2 separate regions of the Homo sapiens genome follow, and region 1 is linked to region 2. A link means that fine-mapping ties the variant in region 2 to the expression of a gene that starts in the linked region. Tissue or cell type: whole blood. Region 2 holds a variant in brackets; the other region holds the start of a gene. All regions are shown on one strand. Distances are between the middles of the regions.

The links. PIP is the estimated chance that this variant, and not a neighbour inherited with it, causes the effect.
Region 1: BAZ2B-AS1 starts here. The variant in region 2 is fine-mapped to the expression of BAZ2B-AS1 in whole blood (INTERVAL, PIP above 0.99).

Annotation. Positions count from the first base shown.
Region 1 is chr2:159,612,244-159,621,463 of GRCh38, forward strand. BAZ2B-AS1 (BAZ2B antisense RNA 1) reads left to right here and starts at 3,051. Exons shown (of 2, transcript NR_110588.1): 1 at 3,051-3,210; 2 at 3,507-5,799. BAZ2B (bromodomain adjacent to zinc finger domain 2B) reads right to left here and starts at 4,305. Exons shown (of 37, transcript NM_013450.4): 1 at 3,999-4,305. RefSeq lists enhancers at 2,256-2,784, 3,841-4,367, 3,995-4,074, 4,325-4,394.
Region 2 is chr2:159,644,786-159,655,417 of GRCh38, forward strand. It overlaps a transcript of BAZ2B not described here. Among named protein-coding and RNA genes, the nearest start is that of BAZ2B, 34 kb to the left of the region's middle. The variant T/C (reference allele first, on the strand shown) is at 4,737.

The sequences.
Region 1 (9,220 bases), 33 kb before region 2:
GAACAAAAGTTTAAAGAAACAGCCAAATGGATTAACATTTATTAAAAAGGCAACAGTATTTTTAAAACTTCATGGTAAAAAATACTTAATTTTATGTAACCAAAAAAACTCTTAAAATACCTAACTAGGTAACTTAATTAATCCCCCAGGAAATCAAATATATTAATAATCACTAAAACTTGATGACGTAATTCCTCTTAAGGGTCAAAATCACCATATTAATTTGTGCTAAATCATATCTCTTCTTTTGGTAGTTCTACTCAGAAACTACAACTTAAGATCCCTTCTCTGAGAAACCTTTAAACCTAAAAGTAATCAAGTTCCAAAATATACTTTCACTAATTCAAGGAGATAAGACAGAAATCCTGAACTTTCATGCAACTGTGATATCCTACATCTTGTATAGTAACACAAAAGTAGCAACAAAGACATTAACAATTGCAGTTCAAGCTGGGAATGACTGTTCTGTTTCAATTCAATGACACCACTAATGGCTTCTTAGCAGCTCCATGAAATCAACCAGCTGTCAAGTTGATGCATCAGAAGGAACAGTTATGCACTCCCATAAGAAAAAGCAACACATCAGGATGTTTGGCAAAACATCTGCTCCTTTACACTGCAGTTCTATAATAAACATGCAAACAAAGAAATGGGAGAAAGGGCAACAGAATTAAAATTCTAAGGTTTCCATTACAGTCTTATGTGCATTTTAAATGAATGGCTTATAAAAAATAAAAACAAATTTCTACCAAGTTGAATACTTTAAGCTATTCCCAATTTTTTGAAAATGCTAAATATAATTACTCAGAGACTGTTCTAGAAAGAAAAAACCTGCATAAGAATCCATCTATTCTAAAAATTGTAAATAAACAATATTCAAGTAAAATCAGTATCATAATGTTATGTATAAAACTCAAAAATTAAAACTAAAATATATCCTTCCTTCATTTAATAAGTATTTCATAAATGATGCCAGCAGTATTCCAATAAATGCATTTCCAAGACTGAAGAGTTTAGAAGTATTTTTTCATTAGTGTTTGTAAGAGTAAATGGTACTACAATTCGGCACTAGTTTAACATGTGAGAACAGTGAAGCTACTATTATCTGGATTTTAAAATATGTACCCATTCCTGTTTCTCTCCAACCATTATAAGAACACAATATTAAGTTCTCATAAATAACTTTGTATTTTTAAAGCATACAATCTGATTTTCTAAAAAAAAAAAAAAAAAAGACTCTTCATCATCGTAGGCTTAAAATAATTTTAAATTCAACCACTTGTTTCAAATACTTGTAAAAATTACTTTTTTCTATCTGAACCATACGAGTGTCTTAATGTTGTCCAAATTACTGATTATGCAGCAGAGTGACAATAATATGTACAGTGTTTACAATAGGTGTGAGACATCAAATGTACTTAACTACCATTTTCTTAAACTGCTTATCCTCTGTTGCTTGCCATTTATAATCTGCCAAATCTTCTAGTCCTTTGTTGCATGTATAATTTAGAACCATCTGTTCTATGTGCTTTTAACTATTTAAACATTTTTCACCTACCTACAATTCACATAAATGGCAGACACTCAACTCAGTCAAGCTTTCTATATAGCATATTACATGAAGCAAATTCCTGGATAAATAGATAACACCAAAGAAGACTGCTACAGAAATAAAAACTTACCATATAGAACATAAATTTCTGTGTGTTACACAAACCTTTTCAATGTATTCAGAATTGTTTCTATTAGCTTTTTTTAAGTTAATTGTAGTCAGTGTTTTTCCCTCAACCCAGAAGACAAAGAGAATGCAAATTAAATACAGACAGTTTCATGTCCTTGTTAGAAGAGATGTAAATATGCTGACTGAAAATGACTACAGGAGACAGAATTCCACTTTCCCATTCAATATACAGTGCCTCTTATTTATATACTAGTCAGTGTATCATTAAGCTTGGTCATGTGACCAAACCAACTTTTGTGAGGCGAAAAACTATGTTAGACAAGCAAATTAAAACAGTGCTAGTTTTTGTTTATCTGTTCATAATGGCTGACAAAGAGTTTATAGCTAGCGATTATAAAATAACTTTTAAAATCAATTCTGCCTCTTAAATACTCAATAATTGTTTGACTTAATATCTGCTACTAAATTTTAAAGTATCCATTATCTTAAGGTATTTTCCATAGTCATTTCTTTTCAAAATGTAAATAAATAATAGAAAAAGAAAACCCCAGAACATTTTATTAGAAACGGGGAGCCAGATAATCTAAAATAACCATACATAAATATTAACCAAGCTAATTTTCAAAAAATCCATAAGGGAGAGTGGAGCAAATAAGAAAGGGAATATACTGACTACAGATAACAGTTGAAACCTTTAAATTAAAAAAAAAAGTACACAAAAACCAGATAAATAACAAATGACGCACAAGTTTTTTACCATTTTTTGCATATAATCTTCCACCTGTTACCAAAACATACAATACGCAGACTTCGTATACTGATTTTGAGAGCAAAACACAAAAATAAGCCACACAACTTATCAGTAACCTGTAAGTTACACAATCCTATAAAACAGGAGAAAAATTAAGCAAAAAATTTACTCTTGGGAAAATTTCTCCGTAAAGTTTACATGACGTCACTGGGCCCCCTGAACATTCCCTAAACTTTGAGACTTATCCAGACACACTTCCTAATACTTCTTTCCTTTCCTCAAAAATAAAAAAGAGAGAGACTTGGGAATAAAATTGCCCAAGATGGCGAAACGCTTGTTGTTTAGAGGGCAGGAAAAAAAATGGAGGATATTGTAATATACACAAAGGGATAAATTTCAACAACTCGGCCAAGGACTGCAGCTGCTTCCCTCTTTATAAGGAAGCAACAGACAAAAGATAAATACAGAGGGAGAAAGAAAAGAAGAGAAAATCTCCCAAACAACAGAGCCAGCTCTGACTCTTCAAACACTTCCTTCCCCTTCTCAAATCCCAATTCTGGGGTTCGTGAAACTACTTAAAGGGGAGGGAGCCGCGAAAGAGAACGGGGGCTGGGGGGAGGGGTAGCGACAAGAAGATTAAAAGAGGGAAGCAGAGGAGTTGGGAGCTGGCGGTCGTTCCCGGGGAAGAACTGCTAAAACATGAGACCAAGGCACAGACCTTACTGTATGAGAAGCAATGCTCCTCAAACCTTCTGCGTGCTGACATAGACCTTCCCAGGTATCCAGATCTTTTCCCAATCCCACCTGCCCCACCCCCACCCCCGCTCATCTTCAGTAAACTCAGAGCCTCCAGCTACACACGGGAGAGCTAGAGGCCCAAGCCGGGGAGTGGGGGTGGCAGACGCAGCTCGTCAGTCCGACAGGGAAGAGGGGGCGGAGGCAAAAAAGGGCAGCAGGAGGCGGACGGGGGTGGGGGGTGATCCAGAAACTACCCCGGCAGGGAGTGGGGGAGCAGCGGATATTCCGGGGTAGGAACGGCCATCGCAACGCTGACAGAGGTTGTTTTTTAAGAAGCAAAACTGTTGGCGGCGACCTGAGCGCTGGAAGCCGAAGGGGAAGAGGAAGGAGACGCGAAGCCAGGGCGGCCGGCACAAAGGCGGCGGACTCGCGGCGGCAGCGCCTGCCCGGCCGGGAGCACAACCCACGGCCCTACTCCAGCGAAGTCCCGCACCGGCTTCTAGGAATAAAGTTTACGTTCTCCTGAGGCCGCACCCCCCACCTCCCACCCAGGACGGCACATCTCCGTGTCCTCCTCCCCCAAACTCCACTCGGGACCCCGAGAACCACCCCAGCCTTCCGGCCACCACAACAAAGAGCCGCACCGACCGGCGAGGATAAACAGCGGCGGAGGGCGAGAGGGCGGCGGGGCGAGCGCCTCCACGCAGCAACTCCGGAGTCCCCCGCTTGCCCGAGCGCAGTTTCTCCGCTGCTGTTTCCACCGGCTTTGTAACACTGGGAATTTACATCCTCACCCGCACCCCTCACGCCCGAGGATTTTAAACTCACCTTTACTCTCGAACTGAGAGTTGCGGTAGATGGGATTTTTGCCTTTTCCCCAGATGGTTGAAGGTTAAGATTTTTGGAAACCCCACCACCTCCTTATTTCTATTATTATTTCTGCAAGAAAAGTATAAAGAGAGTTGTAGTGGAGGTGAGATTTGTGATCGGGAAAGCCTTCGACTCCCTCCTTCTCCGTCTTCCGCCTCTCTCTCTCTGATTAGTTCCTATCCAGCAGCAGATTGAAGCAGGAGATGATTCTTCTCAAGGTTTGTTCAGCAGCTTCACTTCTAGGCGAAGGCTTCATGAACCAAGTGACGTCAACCAACAAGGCTTCTCTCTCTCTCCTCTCTCTAACAATGAAAGTTGCTGTTAACAAGGGAAAAAAAGAGAGAGAATTGTTTATACCATTTCAGTTCCAATAATAAATGACCTATCAGCTCCTAAAGGAGCCAAGGGAGGGGGTTGCTTCTTCTTTCCAAGAATACTGTAGCTTTGAGTTTGCACCGTTCCTTGTCCCAGGAAAAAGTTAAGAAACTTAAAATGTTTTGTTTTGCTTTTAAAGAAGACAGGACAGAAAACGGGATTTAAAACTTAGTTTTTAAAAAAACAAAAGCTACAGAGTAGGGAGCATAGGTCAACCATCTCCACCTAAATTTTTTTTGTTCCTAAACTCAGAATTCTACAACCCAACTAAATTAATATGCCAAGATTTTGCGGATGTTAAAACTCAAAAAAAGCAGTATGCAAGACGGTCCCGGGGTAAAATTCTACTGCCTTTCCACGGACAAGTTAAACTGGCTGTAATGTTTATGCACTAAGTTAAAATAAAATTTAAATAAAAGACGTTAAAATAGTCGTTTTAAAGTTATATGCACACACTGTAAAAGGTAATCTCGATAGCTTTTTTTCAAGTTTCTGAGAGATTAGAAAAAAAGCATAGCAAATTGTAGGCACTGAACACTTTTTAAAAATCAAGTTATGAGTAAGACTGGTAGCCCTTTGCTCCTTTAAACTACAAATGCAGTCATATGCTATGGTCTACCCCCAGAATCTCTTCCAACTTTGTTTTTACCCTTCCACTCCCCCAACCCCAATTCCCAAATCCTGCAACCAATCAAGTTAAACTAAAGATACAATAGGCCCCATTCCCTCCCGCACCCCATCCTATAGATTCCTAAAAACAATTTTTTTAAAAGCCTTAATCTTGATAACACTTTATTAGCCAAGAAGATACGTATTTTTTTTTTTAGAAGTTCGTTGAGGTACCGTTTTTTCCCTCCAGAACACAAGAAAGTCTCAAAGTTCATATAATTAAAAATTGCATAATTTAATTTTCAGGATGAAGAGTAAGTAAAAATTAAGCTATCGGAGAATAATTTGATCATCTATGTATATTTTATACATATGTGGATAAATGTATCTTAAAAGATGCTATTGTTTTATGTTTCCTCTTCAGCCACTGGCTGTGATTTTAATTGTGCTGGAGGATCTTCATTAGTATTAACACATGGGGAGATTTCACAAAGCTGCTTCATTAGGAAAAAAAAAAAGCTTGGCAGACTCGGTCTTTTTGCATGCACTGAGAATGTCAGCCTTACCTCGGTCATTTGTAACATAATAAGTGCAAGTACAATGATTGCAATGCAGGAGCACTGGGGGAAGGGCAGAAATACTGCCTGTCTAATAGGGATATCTGAAAAGAAGGCTGCTCATTACAGAGTAAAATGTATGCTAAAAATTAGTGAAGATGATGTCTCAGGAGACTGATGCTAAATAAATTAATGTGCTGATATGTTTTTAATTATTATTTTTGTAGTAGTTTATTTCATTCTCAGGATTCACATTGAGCAGCAAAGCTGTGCTAGCACTTATTGATTTTTTTTCCCTGCCACATTCCCGGAATACAGATTTTAATCATTTCACTACACCACACTCAGTAATTTCATTAAAAACTGGAATCTTCCATCCCCAGAAAAGCATTTAATTTCAATGACATACAATTTCTCTTTTAGCAGCAAACTGTCTCTACAGTAAAAACTGGCCTAAGGTTCAAATGCATAATTTAATCCTGAGTTTTCCATGCTCTGCATTCCTTTCAAGCTATAATTTGAGTAACTACCTAATAACTGTAATAAGGACAATAATTTCCTTATAATATATTATTAACTCATATTTAATTAACTCGGAGGCCAAGCTCTGTACATGTATGACTGGGTCAACAGTTCTATAATCTCAAAATTTACTAATAATGTTCCAGAAGAAAAATATAGATTAAAATATAAGTATGAATGCACTTAGTATCTAAGACTTCTATCCCAAGTCACATACAAAAAAGTTAATGCATTGTTCTATAATGGTGGTCATTAAATAAATAATATTTTTAAGTATGTGGAACTAAAAAATGGAATACACTGATATTTCTATGCGTAAAGTATTGAATATTAATGTTTTAACAATCTATTACTGACACTTTACCTAATCATTAGCATTACTGTTGAAAATATTTAATTTTGAAAAGATAAGGAAAAAGTGCTAGATTCAAGTTATCTTGATTTTCATAAAGAATTCTCCCAAAATATACCTCGCTTGAAATAAAGTTAAGTGGCACACTGTAACTCGAATAATTAAGAATACATCCTTTGCTTAAATACTTCAAACAATATACTGCAAAGCATGGTTCAATTTTTGGTTCCAATAATATTTTGAAATATTGGGATTGCAGATGCCACACTGGTTTCCCAAACAATGGTTTCATAATGATATGTAATTTACATTGCCTGGATTTTAGAAAAGAAACCTGTGAAAAAAAATAATTTAAAGTAATAAAATTCATTAATTTAAATTGTGGAAATATGTCTAATCTACAGAAAAAACAATATATGTAATGAAAGTGATTAACTACTATATAAAAACTCCAGTCATTCCCCTGAGTAATTTTAGAATCATAATTCAAAAATTTTTATAAGAATATGTATATGCAATTTCAAGCTGGAGCCATATACAACCCAAAGTTGTCTTTTACTTGATTGCACAAGGAAGTAACTTATAACAAAATACATCTTATCATCATCAAAAGGTTGGAAAAAAGGGGAAAAGGGGTGACAGTGAAAACCTTGATTTTAATGTCTTCTAAAGACATTTTAAAATATATTTTTATTATGAAGGGCTCGTTATATACTTCAGGAAATATGTGACATTCCCAATGGTGAAGTTATATGGAAATCAATAATTAACAAAATAGTTGCTAAATGAAAGACTGACATAGGTATCTCAAATTCATAAATATATTTCTCTATTTCAATAAAAATAATAAAAACTTTAATTTTATATTAAAATATATATTTAAAATTATTTAATGTTATTTGGTAATTCAGATATACAAATTAAAATTATTCAATTTAATCTGTATTTTTAAACTGATTCTTCTTAAAAAAAAATGATTTCCTAGAAATTTTAAACTGGATTACTCCAAGTATTTGATACCTTCTTACTAAGAAATTGTGCTTAAATTATTTTTAAAATATGATTCCTTCCCTTTTTCATGTTATCATACTTTATCATTTCAGAGATTATAACATAATCATACAGTTGAGGGGGAAAACTTCAGATAAAATAGTTGCTATAGTTATAAAATAATTTAACTCCCAACAGGACTTCGTCTTCTACCCAAGATCATCATCTGTATTAGTGCTTCATCATGTACATAATTGTGATAGAATTTAATGATCAAGCAGATCTTTTCCAATTTTAGTGAATAATTAACTCTGAAATTCTATACCTATTTACCTATCCCACAGACTATGCCACCAATATGGACTAAATTGTTGCACTTTCTTCTGTAAAGCAGCATCTGTTTTTACGACAAAGACAGAACTTCTTAAATAGGTAGATATAGAGTTGGATGGCTATCTAACTTACTACTATGGGTATTGTAGATGGTTCCTCAAAGAGTAAGAAATTGCTATGTACAGAGAATGAAGTCTAGGAAGGCTGACTACAAAGAAAAACAAACGAGAGATCTCAACAGTATAACAAGCTGGCCACTGTTATATCTTGTTTCTGTTTCAATCATTACAGCCTAATGAAGCTTTATTTGTTTTCATTCATTGAACAAACATTTGAGTGCTTGCTATATGCTACGCGCTATGCTAGAGGCTGGAAAAACATGAAAAGCTCACATTCTGGTTGATGTACAAAGTGTGAAATGCCTGGGAGATTAGAGACTCATATAAATCACATTATAAAGATACAAATAATAAAGTTTTGTGAGAATAAAGAGGATGAGGCAACTAATTCTCACTGAGAGACTAGAAAAGGCTTTATCAAAGAGATGTTATTTGAACTGCATCTCAAATACTGAGAGCTTACCAGGCAAAGAAGTTCGGGGTGGGAGGTGGTCTTCTAAGTGAAAGAAACAACAAGTGTAAATATGCAGAGATACTAGATCTGGTGTCCATCCACTAGTGAGAAATTCTGTATGCGGGAATATTCAGTATGGGGAAGGACAGAGATAAAGGAATGATAGGGATGTCATGACCAAGATGAAGGCTGGGACCTGACAGTAAAAGGCCTAAGTACCATGGTAAGGTGGTTGAATTTATCACAAGAGCCAACAAAGGCTAGCAAAGGAGTGGCATGATTGACCTTGTTTTGAGGGAACAGTAACTGTATAGGCAGTGCAAATGATAGACTGTAGTATTAAGAGATTGCTTAACAGTCCGTAAGAATGATGGTAGAGACAGTGGCATTGGAGATTTACAGCCAGATATTTCTGAGGTAAAATTTCAGTTTGGTGACTAACTGAAAATAGAATTAAGGAAGAGGAAGGAGTGAAAGAGGACTAGAGAAATTTCTGGCTTACAGTAGTTGCTGCAGTCATTAACTATGGGCCAGAATACATAAGGGAAAACAAATCATAAAGTAGTCTGGAATTAAAACCTGGCTATGACGCTTTATAGGCCTCTTTTAAAAATGGGATTATCAGAATCAACTGTAGAGATTGTTTTAAATATCTAGAATTGTCCCCAGTGTCCAGAATTCACTATGTGAATTCAAATGTCCCCAACGTCCAGAATTCACCATGTCTGGGTGGGGGGTCAAGTATTTCTTTTCTTCTTCAACTCTAAAGACGCTTCTGATAAACATCCCTGATTAAGAACACGGCTGTAAGCACAAATTTGTTAAAAAATTCAGTTGGAAAAAGAAATAAGAAAAACACAGGAAATCTT
Region 2 (10,632 bases):
GTGGTTCTTCAGCCATACCACCCTTCGTGTTCTCTTCAGAACAAGTTTTGTGCAGTATGGACAGGCTAAGAATTTTCCCAATCTCCATCTTCTGAAAACTTTTTCCTTAATAATTCCTTTTTCATTTCTTGCCTCTCATATTTTACTATAAGTAGTAAGGAGGACCTATGCTATATTTTCAATACTTGGCTTTAAAAATCACCTCTGGGCCAGGCACAGTGGCTCACACGTGTAATCCCAGCATTTTGAGAGCCCAAGGCAGGTGGATTGCTTGAGCCCAGGAGTTCGAGACCAGCCTGGGCAACATGGTGAAAACTTGTCTCTACAAACAATAAAATTAGCCAGGCATGGTGGCATGCACCTATAGTCTCAGCTACTCGGGAGGCTGAGGTGTGAGGATCACTTGGGCCTGGGAGGTAAAGGTTGCAGTGAGCTATGATGGTGCCATTGTACTCCAGGCTGGGCGACAGAAAGAGCCCTGTCTCTAAAAAAAGTTTTTTTTTTTTTAAATCACCTCTGCTAAATACCCAATTTCATTGCTTAAAATAGTGGTCCCTAACCTTTTCGGCACCAGGGACCAGTTTCGTGGAAGACAATTTTCCCACAGATGGAGCAAGGTGGGAGGGTGCCATGGTTTCAGAATGAAACTGTTCCACCTCAGATCATCAGGCATTAGTTAGATTCTCATAAGGAGTGTGCAACCTAGATCCCTCCCATGCACTGCTCACAATAGGGTTCACATTCCTCTGAGAATCTAATGTCACTGCTGATCTGACAGGAGGTGGAGATCAGGTGGTAATGCTCACTCAACTGCTGCTTACCTCCTGCTTGTGTGGCCCAGTTCCTAATTATCGGGAAATCTGCCCCCGATAGTCACGTAGGTTCTTTTCTATTTTCTCTAAGCATCAGCCAGGTTGAAAAATAAAGGGACAGAGTACAAAAGAGAGAAATTTTAAAGCTGGGTGTCCGGGGGAGACATCACATGTCGGTAGGTTCCATGATGCCCCCTGAGCTGTAAAACCAGCAAGTTTTTATTAGGGATTTGCAAAAGGGGAGGGAGTGTACGAATAGGGTGTGGGTCACAGAGATCATGTACTTCACAAGGTAATAGAATATCACAAGGCAAATGGAGGCAGGGCAAGATCACAGGACCACAGGACCAGGGTGAATTTAAAATTGCTAATGAAGTTTCGGGCACCATTGTCATTGATAACATCTTACCAGGAGACAAGGTTTGAGAGCAACCAACGGGTCTGACCAAAATTTATTAGGTGGGAATTTCCTCATCCTAATAAGCCTGAGAGCACTATGGGAGACTGGGGCTTATTTCATCCCTACAGTTTTGACCATAGAAGACGGCCACACCCAAGGGGGCCATTTTAGAGGCCCACCCTCAGGGGCGCATTCTCTTTCTCAGGGATGTTCCTTGCTGAGAAAAAGAATTCTGTGATATTTCTCCCATTTGCTTTTGAAAGAAGAGAAATATGGCTCTGTTCCGCCTGGCTCACCGGCAGTCAGAGTTTAAGGTTATCTCTCTTGTTCCCTGAACATTGCTGTTATCCTGTTCTTTTTTCAGGGTGCCCAGATTTCATATTGTTCAAACACACATGCTCTACAATTTTTGCAGTTAATGCAATCATCACAGGGTCCTGAGGCAATATACATCCTTCTCAGCTTATGAGATGACAGGATTAAGAGATTAAAATAAAGACAGGCATAAGAAATCACAAGGGTATTAATTGGGGAAGTGATAAGTATCCATGAAATCTTCACAATTTATGTTCAGAGATTGCAGTAAAGACAGGTGTAAGAAATTATAAAAGTATTAATTTGGGGATCTAATAAATGTCCATGAAATCTTCACAATTTATGTTCTTCTGCCATGGCTTCAGCTGGTTCCTCTGTTTGGGGTCCCTGACTTCCTGCAACACTAATAGGCCATGGGCTCATACCAATCTGCAGCCAGGGGTTGGGGACCCCTGGCTTAAAAATTCTACTTACTGCAAAATACTAGAACATAATTCAAACAAGATTTTTGCCCCTTTATAACAAGGATTGCCACCTGTTCCTCTTTTACATCTGAGAGCTTACCAGAATGGCCTTTAACATACATATTTCTACCATTCTAACATTCTATTCATGATTATTTATGTGTTCTCTTAAAGATAGATGCTTTCTCTCCTGCTCTGCTGTTTTCCCTCTGAGCCCTCACCACAATCATTCATTAAACATATATATTTCTAGGATGCATATCAAAACTTCCAGCCTCTACACTTACCCAGTCCCAAAGTCATTTCCACATTTTAGGTATTTGTACAGGAGAACCCCACACCTTGGATCCAAAATCTATATTAGTCAGGATTCTCCAGAGAAACAAAACCAAAAGGATGTATGTATAAAGATATTTATTATAAGGAATTCACCCATACAATTATGTATTAGTCCCAAGACCTACAGTCAGCAAATTGGAAACCCAGGAGAGACAATAGTTTAAGTCTGAAAGCTGGCAGACTCAAGACCCAAGAAGAGCCAACGTTTCAGTTCAAGTCTGAAGGCAAGAAAAGTCCAGTCTCCCAGCTCAATAGTTAGGCAGGAGTCGTTTCCTCTTACTCACAGTAGGATCAACGTTCTTGTTCTATTCAGGACTTCAACTGATTCACATCCACATTAGGGAGAACAATCTCCTTTACTCAGTCTACTGATTCAAATGTACATTTCATATAAAAACACTCTCAGAGACACACTCAGAATAATGACTGACCAAATACCTGAGCACCCCATGGCCCAGATTAATTGATACACAAAATTAACCATCACAGTTAGCCAATTCCCTTGATTATTCATTTTGGTAAAATGTCATGTAGATTTATTACTGAGAGACAAGAAGACAACACAACTACATGCTTTGCTGTCTGTGCATGAACTGAACAACGACCAATAAAATAAAAAAATCATCACCAGATGACTTTGAAAAAGTAATGTGATGGGTCACTGATCATGCCATGCATCTGTTATTTATAATGATGTGTGGACTGAAGAGCTAGCAGCAAACATTTTACTTTATGCAATTATTCATAATAAATATTCTGTGGTAAATTTAAAGGTTTCTAGGGGATGGATGAGATTTAACTGAAGTATGCTGACTGAAATTTTTGCATACTGGAACCATGCAAAGTGAGAACTTACTGTAATTTGCATACAACAAATTGCACATATTTAAAATGCATAATTAGATCATTTTGTCACACGTATGTATATACTTGTGGAAACCTTAACATAGTAAAGATTATGGATATATCCTTTACCTCCAAAGTTTCCTCTTGCCCTCTCCCACTATTTGTTTGTTTATTTATTTATTTATTTATTTTTTGAGAAAGAGTCTCACTCTGTCATCCAGGCTGGAATGCAGCAGCATGATCTTGGCTCACTGCAACCTCCACTTCCCAGGTTTAAGAGATTCTCCTGCCTCAGCCTCCCAAGTAGCTGGGGTTACACGCACATGCCACCATGCCCAGCTAATTTTTGTATTTTTAGTAGAGATGGGGTTTCAGCATGTTGCTTAGGCTGGTCTCAAACTCCTGACCTCAACTAATCCACCTGCCTCAGCCTCCCAAAGTGCTGGGATTACAGGTGTGAGCCACTGCCTTCAGCCCCTCTTGCTCCTTTATAGTGCTTCCCCCCACTCTTCCATGTTACCCAACTCCATGGATCCCAGGCAATGACTGATTTGCTTTCAATCACAATAGATTACTTTGCATTTTTGGAAGTTCATATAAATAAGATCATATACTATGTATTCTTTTTTGTCTGGCTTCTTCCATTCAGTATAATTTTCAGATTCACTCATTGTTTGCATGTTTAAATTGTTCGTTCTCTTTTATTGCTAAATTGTATTTCATTATACAGATATCAGGTTTTATTTACCTACTCTTGGGTTAATATTTAGATTTTTTTCTACCTTTTAGCTATTACAAATCATGTTGCTATGAACGTTTATATAAGAAATTTTACACAGACTTATGTCATTACATCTCCTGGGTATATACCAAGGAGTGGAATAGCTGGATCATATGGTAGGTATGTATTCAATTTTTTTAAAAAACTGCCAAACTGTTTACCAAAGTGGCTATAACATTTTACATTCCCACCAACAGTGAATAAGTACTCCACATATCCCACATCCCTAGCCAAAATGAGGGGGTAGTTTGTTTTTTAAATTTTAGTCATTCTAATAGGTGTGTGGTGTTATCTGGTTGTGATATTAATTTGCATTTCTCTAATTACTAATGATGTTGAGCATTTTTATATGTTTATTTGCCACCCTTTTATATTTTTTGGTGAAATGTCTGTTCAACTCGTTGGCCATTTTAAAAACTGTGTTATATGTTTTCTTATTATTGAGTTTTGGAAGTTCTTTATACATTTTGGATACAAGGCCTATACAGCTCACCATAATGTAGAATGAGGGGAGCCCTGAGCTTGTTTTCCTGCAACTAGATGGTCCCATCTGGGGGTGATGGGAGACACTGACAGATCATCAGGCATTAGATTCTCATAAGAAGTGCACAACCTAGATCCCTCACATACACAGTTCACAATAGGGTTTGTGTTCCTGTGAGAATCTAATGCTACCACTGATCTGACAGGAGGTGGAGCTCAGGCAGTAGTATGAGTGTTGGGGAGTGGCTGTAAATACAGATGAAGCTTCTCTTGCCCACCACTCACCTCCTGCTGTG[T/C]GGCCCAGTTCCTAACAGGTCACAGACCACAACTGGTACCAGTCCATGGCCCAGGGGTTGGGGACCCCTGCTGTAGGTCATATGTCTTTTTTTTCCTCAAGCTGCTTTCAAGATTTTCTCTTATTACTATTTGTGAACAATTTGATGGTGACCTACACTGACGTAGTTTTCTTCATGTTTCTTGGTTTTTGGTTTGAGTTTCTTCAGTTTCTGGGTTTAAAGCTATCATCAAATTTGGAAAAACTCAGCTATGATTTTTTTCTGCCTTCCCTTCCTTAAAGGGGTCCCATTACAAATATATTATGCTATATTTATAGTTGAATACAAGTGATGCACATCTGTTATTTATGAAGGTGTCCCACAGCTTAGTGCTGTTCTATTCATTTTTTAATAATTAATTCTTCTCTTTATGCCTTCCTTTGAATGTTTTCTATTGTAATTTCTTCAAATTCACCAATCTTTTTCTTCTACAAGATATGTCCTCTAGTTAATCCCATCTCTTGTGTTTTCCATCTCAGACATTATAGTTATCAGCACCAGAAGTTTGTTTTGGATTTCTTCTATATTATTCATTTTTTTACTTAACATGTTTGATCTTTTCTCCAGCTTTATCTTACATACAGAATACACTTATAAGAAGTTTTGGTATCCTTATCCATCAATTTTACAATTTTAGTCTTTTTTTTTTTTTGCTTGTTTCCATGCCTGCTAGTTTTTTTTACTGGGTGTCATATATTGTGAATTTTATCTTGTGAGGTGCTGAACATGTTTGTATTACTATAAAGATTCCTGGGCTTTTTTTCTGGGTTGCAGTTAAATTGGAAACGATTTAATCCTTTCAGGTCTTGCTTTTAAGATATGTCAGACAGAACCACAGGACCATTTAAGTTTAGGGCTAAGGATTCCACACTATTGATGCAAGATCTTTTAAAACATTGTACCCAATGCCCCATAAATAGTGAGGTTTTCTAGTCTGGTAGGTGGCAAAAGGCACTATTCCTATTCCTGTGAGAACTGCGTACAGTCTTCCCTCTTCTAAACCTTTTCAGTGGTTCTTTTCCTAGCCTTGGGTAGCTCCCTCATATTCATATACTGATTAGTACTCTACTGTAAACATGACAAGGATCTTCTGCAGATCTCTGGAGTTCTTGTAGTGACTCTCACCACTTCAGTACTGCACCCTGTGATATCTAGTGACCTTGGTCTCTACAGACTATCATCAATGTCTCCTCAAGTCATGAGTCTTTGAGTGCTTACCTCTGTTCCTCTTTTGTGTGACAGAGCCTGGAAAGTCTCTCACAGCAGTAAGCTGAGACCATAATAGGGCCAACCTTGTTTGATTAATGTCTCTCAGCAAACAATGTCCTTTGTTGCCCAATGCCCAATGTCTTAAAAACCACTTGTTTCACATATTCCTATTATTTCAGGCAGCAGGTTAAATTTTGTCCAGTTACTCCATCTCATCTAGAAATATAAGATCCTATTCGTTTATTTTTAATTGATAAAAATTCCTTTTATTAACTAGCCTTAAAATTCCTTAAAAAAACATTGTGATTATAATCTCCAGCACATAATGTTATCAAGATACTTTCTTTCCTCACTTATGTGGGGAATCATATATCCAAGAATTGCAATGCACTTATTTTACCATTACTCTTACATTGTGAATATAGAAAAAAATAGAAATGGGTTGGTACAGTATTATGGCCATCTTAAAAACAAGTAATGAGATGGCTATAGAGCCTTCTGATTATTACAAACCTCATTTCAATCAAGGGGAGTTAATAGTAGGAGAAAAAGTTTCTCTCTTTTTCAAGGACCAGAACTGATTTTATTTTATGAGGAAAAGTATGTGCTTTATGTTTTTTCTCATCCCGGCTCTCTCCTTAGTGTTAGTGAAAAAACCTTGTATATTCTCATAATCACTTTTCTGCCAATCTTAATCTTTGGCAGTAGTGTAGGTTTTCATTTATTATGTTTTCAAGAGTACATTCATGGGGTCAACTATGTCAGGATTGGTAGGAAGATATAATTTTTTGAGGTTTTAAAACATTATTGAAATATAATTCATTTACCATAAAACTTACCCCTTTGAAATATATAATTTAGTGCTTTTTAGTCACAAATTTGTACAACCATCACTACAGATTTTCATCACCCACAAAAGTTACCCCACACCCATTACCCATCACTACTGACTCCCCTCTTCCCCCAGTTTCTGAAAAATATGTGGACTTTGCCTATTCCACATATTTTATATAAATGGAGCCATAAAATATGTGGTCTTTTGTGACTAGCTCCTTTCACATAGCATAAGTTTTCAGGGTTGATCCATATTGTAGCATTTATTGGTACCTCATTCTGCTTCATTGCTGAATAATATTTCATTATATGAATAGATCACATTTTATTTTTCCATTCATCTATTAGTGAATAAATTGTTTCAAATTTTGAGCTATTATGAATAATACTGCTATAAACATTCATATACACGTTTTTTGTGTGAAAATGTATTTATTCCACTCTTTTGGGTATATACCTAGAAGTAAAATTGCTGAGTCATATAATAACTATAATTTTCTCAGGAACTGACAGACTGCTTTCCAAACTGGCTATACAATTTTACTTTCTCCCCAGCAATGTACAGGGATGCTAATTTCTCTCCATCTTTACCATCACTTGTTACTCTCTTTTTTTTTTTTTTTGAGATGGAGTTTTGCTCTTGTTGCCCAGGCTGGAGTGCAATGGCATGGTCTTGGCTCACTGCAACCTCCACCTCCCGGATTCAAGTGATTCTCCTGCCTCACCCTCCCATATAGCTGAGATTATAGGCGCGTGCCACAACACCTGGCTAATTTTGTATTTTTTAATAGAGACAGGGTTTCATCATGTTGGCCAGGCTAGTCTCAAACTCCTAACCTCAGGTGATCCACCCACCTCGGCCTCCTAAAGTGCTGAGATTACAGGCGTGAGCCACCGCGCCTGGCCACTGTCTATCATTTTGATTACAGCCAATCTAGTGGGCACAAAGTGGCATCTCATTGTGGTTCTGATTTGCGTTTCCCTATAATTAATGATGTTGAGCATGCAAGAAATATTTTTTTTTGAGACAGTATCTTGCTCTATTGCCCAAAGGCTTCATGCATTGTTGAGTGGTATAAACACGATTTACTAACAGCCCTAACCTCCTGGGTCAAGTGATCCTCCTGCCTCGGCCTCCCAAGAAGTTGGAACTACAGGTGTGTGGTACCATGCCTGGCTAATTTTTTTGGTTTTTGTAGAGATGGGGTCTCACTCTGTAGCCCAGGCTGGTCTCAAACTCCTAGGCTCAAGCAATTCTCCTATCTTGGCCTCCTAAAGTGCTGGAATTACAGGCATGAGCCACTGTGCCTGACCCAAATGTCCTTTTTTATTTTTATTTTTATTTTTTTTTTGAGGTGGAGTCTCACTCTGTCACACAGGCTGGAGTGCAGGGGTGCCATCTCAACTCACTGCAACCTCTTCCTCCTGGGTTCAAGTGATTCTCCTGCCTCAGCCTCCCAAGTAACTGGGATTACAGGCGCACGCCACCATACTTGGCTAATTTTTTTATACTTTTTGGTAGAGACAGGGTTTCACCATGTTGGCCAGGCTAGTCTTGACTCCTGACCTCAAGTGATCCACCCGCCTTGGCCTCCCAAAGTGCTGGGATTATAGGCGTGAGCCACCACACCTGGCACCAAGTGTCCTTTTTAATTAACCTCCCACAGCACCTTTTTATTAAAAATTCTGTAAGAATTTTACCTAACAAATATTCAATAAACACGTGATATTACTATTCTTTTTAAAAAATCATTTCTACAACATTTATTCTATTAAAGTATTTTGGAATTTGTTCAAATGTATACCCAACCTCACATATGCAGCTGACCCAGATATTCTATAATTCTTTCAATAGAATATATCAAAGAAAAAGAGTTGGAAAGAATCGTATAGTATAGGTTTTGTGTTACCTAGTACCTCTAAACAAAACTTGAGATAGTCTTTGCTCGGCACCCTAGAAATCAAAACAACTTGAAATTGAATTTTACAAGTGAAAAAGATCCTAAAGAAAACCTGGATCTTCTGGCTTATATGATACGTGATGTAATTACACATAAGGTTCAGTGACTTCTAAAATCATTTAGCTAATTATTGACATGGTTGTCACTAAAATCTAGATATGCTGACTTCTATATTAGTGTTCCTTCTAATGGAATTATTGACAAACTCAAATAATAAAAGATTTAACATGAAACAATGGCAAGGGCAATGGACTAGTAATCAGAAAATGTGCTTGTATCTTACAATATTTGGTTGAGCCTATAGAATACTAATTTAACCTCTGTACCATATCTTCATCAAATAGGAAATTCTACTAGATAATCTCAAATTCTTCCACATTTAAAAGATTCACTGGAATATAAAAAAGCATTAAGTAGACTTGGAAGTTAACCCCCAAAAAAGAGTACAGGAGCTTTAAACAACAATAAGCCAAAATCTTAGTGGAATTTTTCCTGTTATAATAGTGGGAATGCAATCAGAAATATATTCTATCAACAAGAGCAGCTTGGACTAACATAGGCAGGAAAAGAACTCAACTCTCATTACATGTTGTAATATATTGATCAATAAAAAGATAGCCGTTTCCCAACTGCACGGAGTAATATTCTGAGGAAACCAGAATGAGAAGCCTGCCAAAGATTCCACCATAGCCTCTTTTCTTTGTTATATCTACAGAGTTTATAACTCCCAGCATGTAACACATAAAGAAGCAGGAGCACAGGGTTGAAATATATATGTTGGTAGTAGACAAAGGATGGAAAGATAGGCTTGAATATATCACATATTATCAAAGCATTGTGAACTGAGATCTGACTAATTTAGACAGAGAATCCAAGACAAAAAAACCCCAAGAAGGGCCAACAAGATCCATTTAAGATAAATGTCAACAAGTATTGCAGAGAGAGGTAGAAACCTGCCTTCTAAGGTAGCACTAAGAGCACAATTTGCTAGCAGTTTAATATGAAAGTGAGGAAGTATAAGTTTTCTTCTTCAATGCTCTCTATTGAAAAAAATGCCAGAAGAACTTACTAAGTATGTAGGAAAAAAAGAAAGAAAAGAAAAGAAGAGTGTTTTGAAAAGAAACTACAGGCCGGGCATGGTGGCTCACACCTGTAATTCCTGCACTTTGGGAGGTGGATCACTTGAGCTCAGGGCTTCAAGACCAGCCTGGGCAACATGGTGAAACCCCATCTCCACAAAAAAATACAAAAATTAGCTGGGCATGGTGATGCATGCCTGTAACTTGGGAGGCTGAGGCAGGAGAATCGCTTGAGCCTGGGAGGCGGAAGCTATAGTGAGCAGAGATAAAAGGTAAAAAGACATGTAAAATAGCATATATTCTGTAAATAGTTTCCTCTGAGGAAAATATAAACATTTATTTTTCATGTGCTTGGTTATTTCAAAGAAGATGCAACAGGAAAGTCAAAGAGAGGAATTAAAATAAAATGATAACATGAATTCAAAGGCAATTAGTACAGTGTAAGGAATTGGCTAATGGAAAATAACAAAATAACTTAAACAAACATGCACTATAGTCACATTAAAAGTGAAGAAAGAGGCTGAGGCAGGTGAATTACCTGAGGTCAGGAGTTTGAGACCAGCCTGGCAAACATGGCAAAACCCTGTCTCTGCTAAAAATACAAAAATCTCTGTTTTTATTTTCTTGGAAACATCTTTATTTCACCTTCATTTCTGAAAGCTAATTTTGTGGTATATAGTATTCTTTGTTGTCAGTTCCCTCCATAAACCCACCTCCAGGACTTTAAATATGCCATTGTATCGTCTTCTGGAGATCACTGTTTCTGAAAACAGC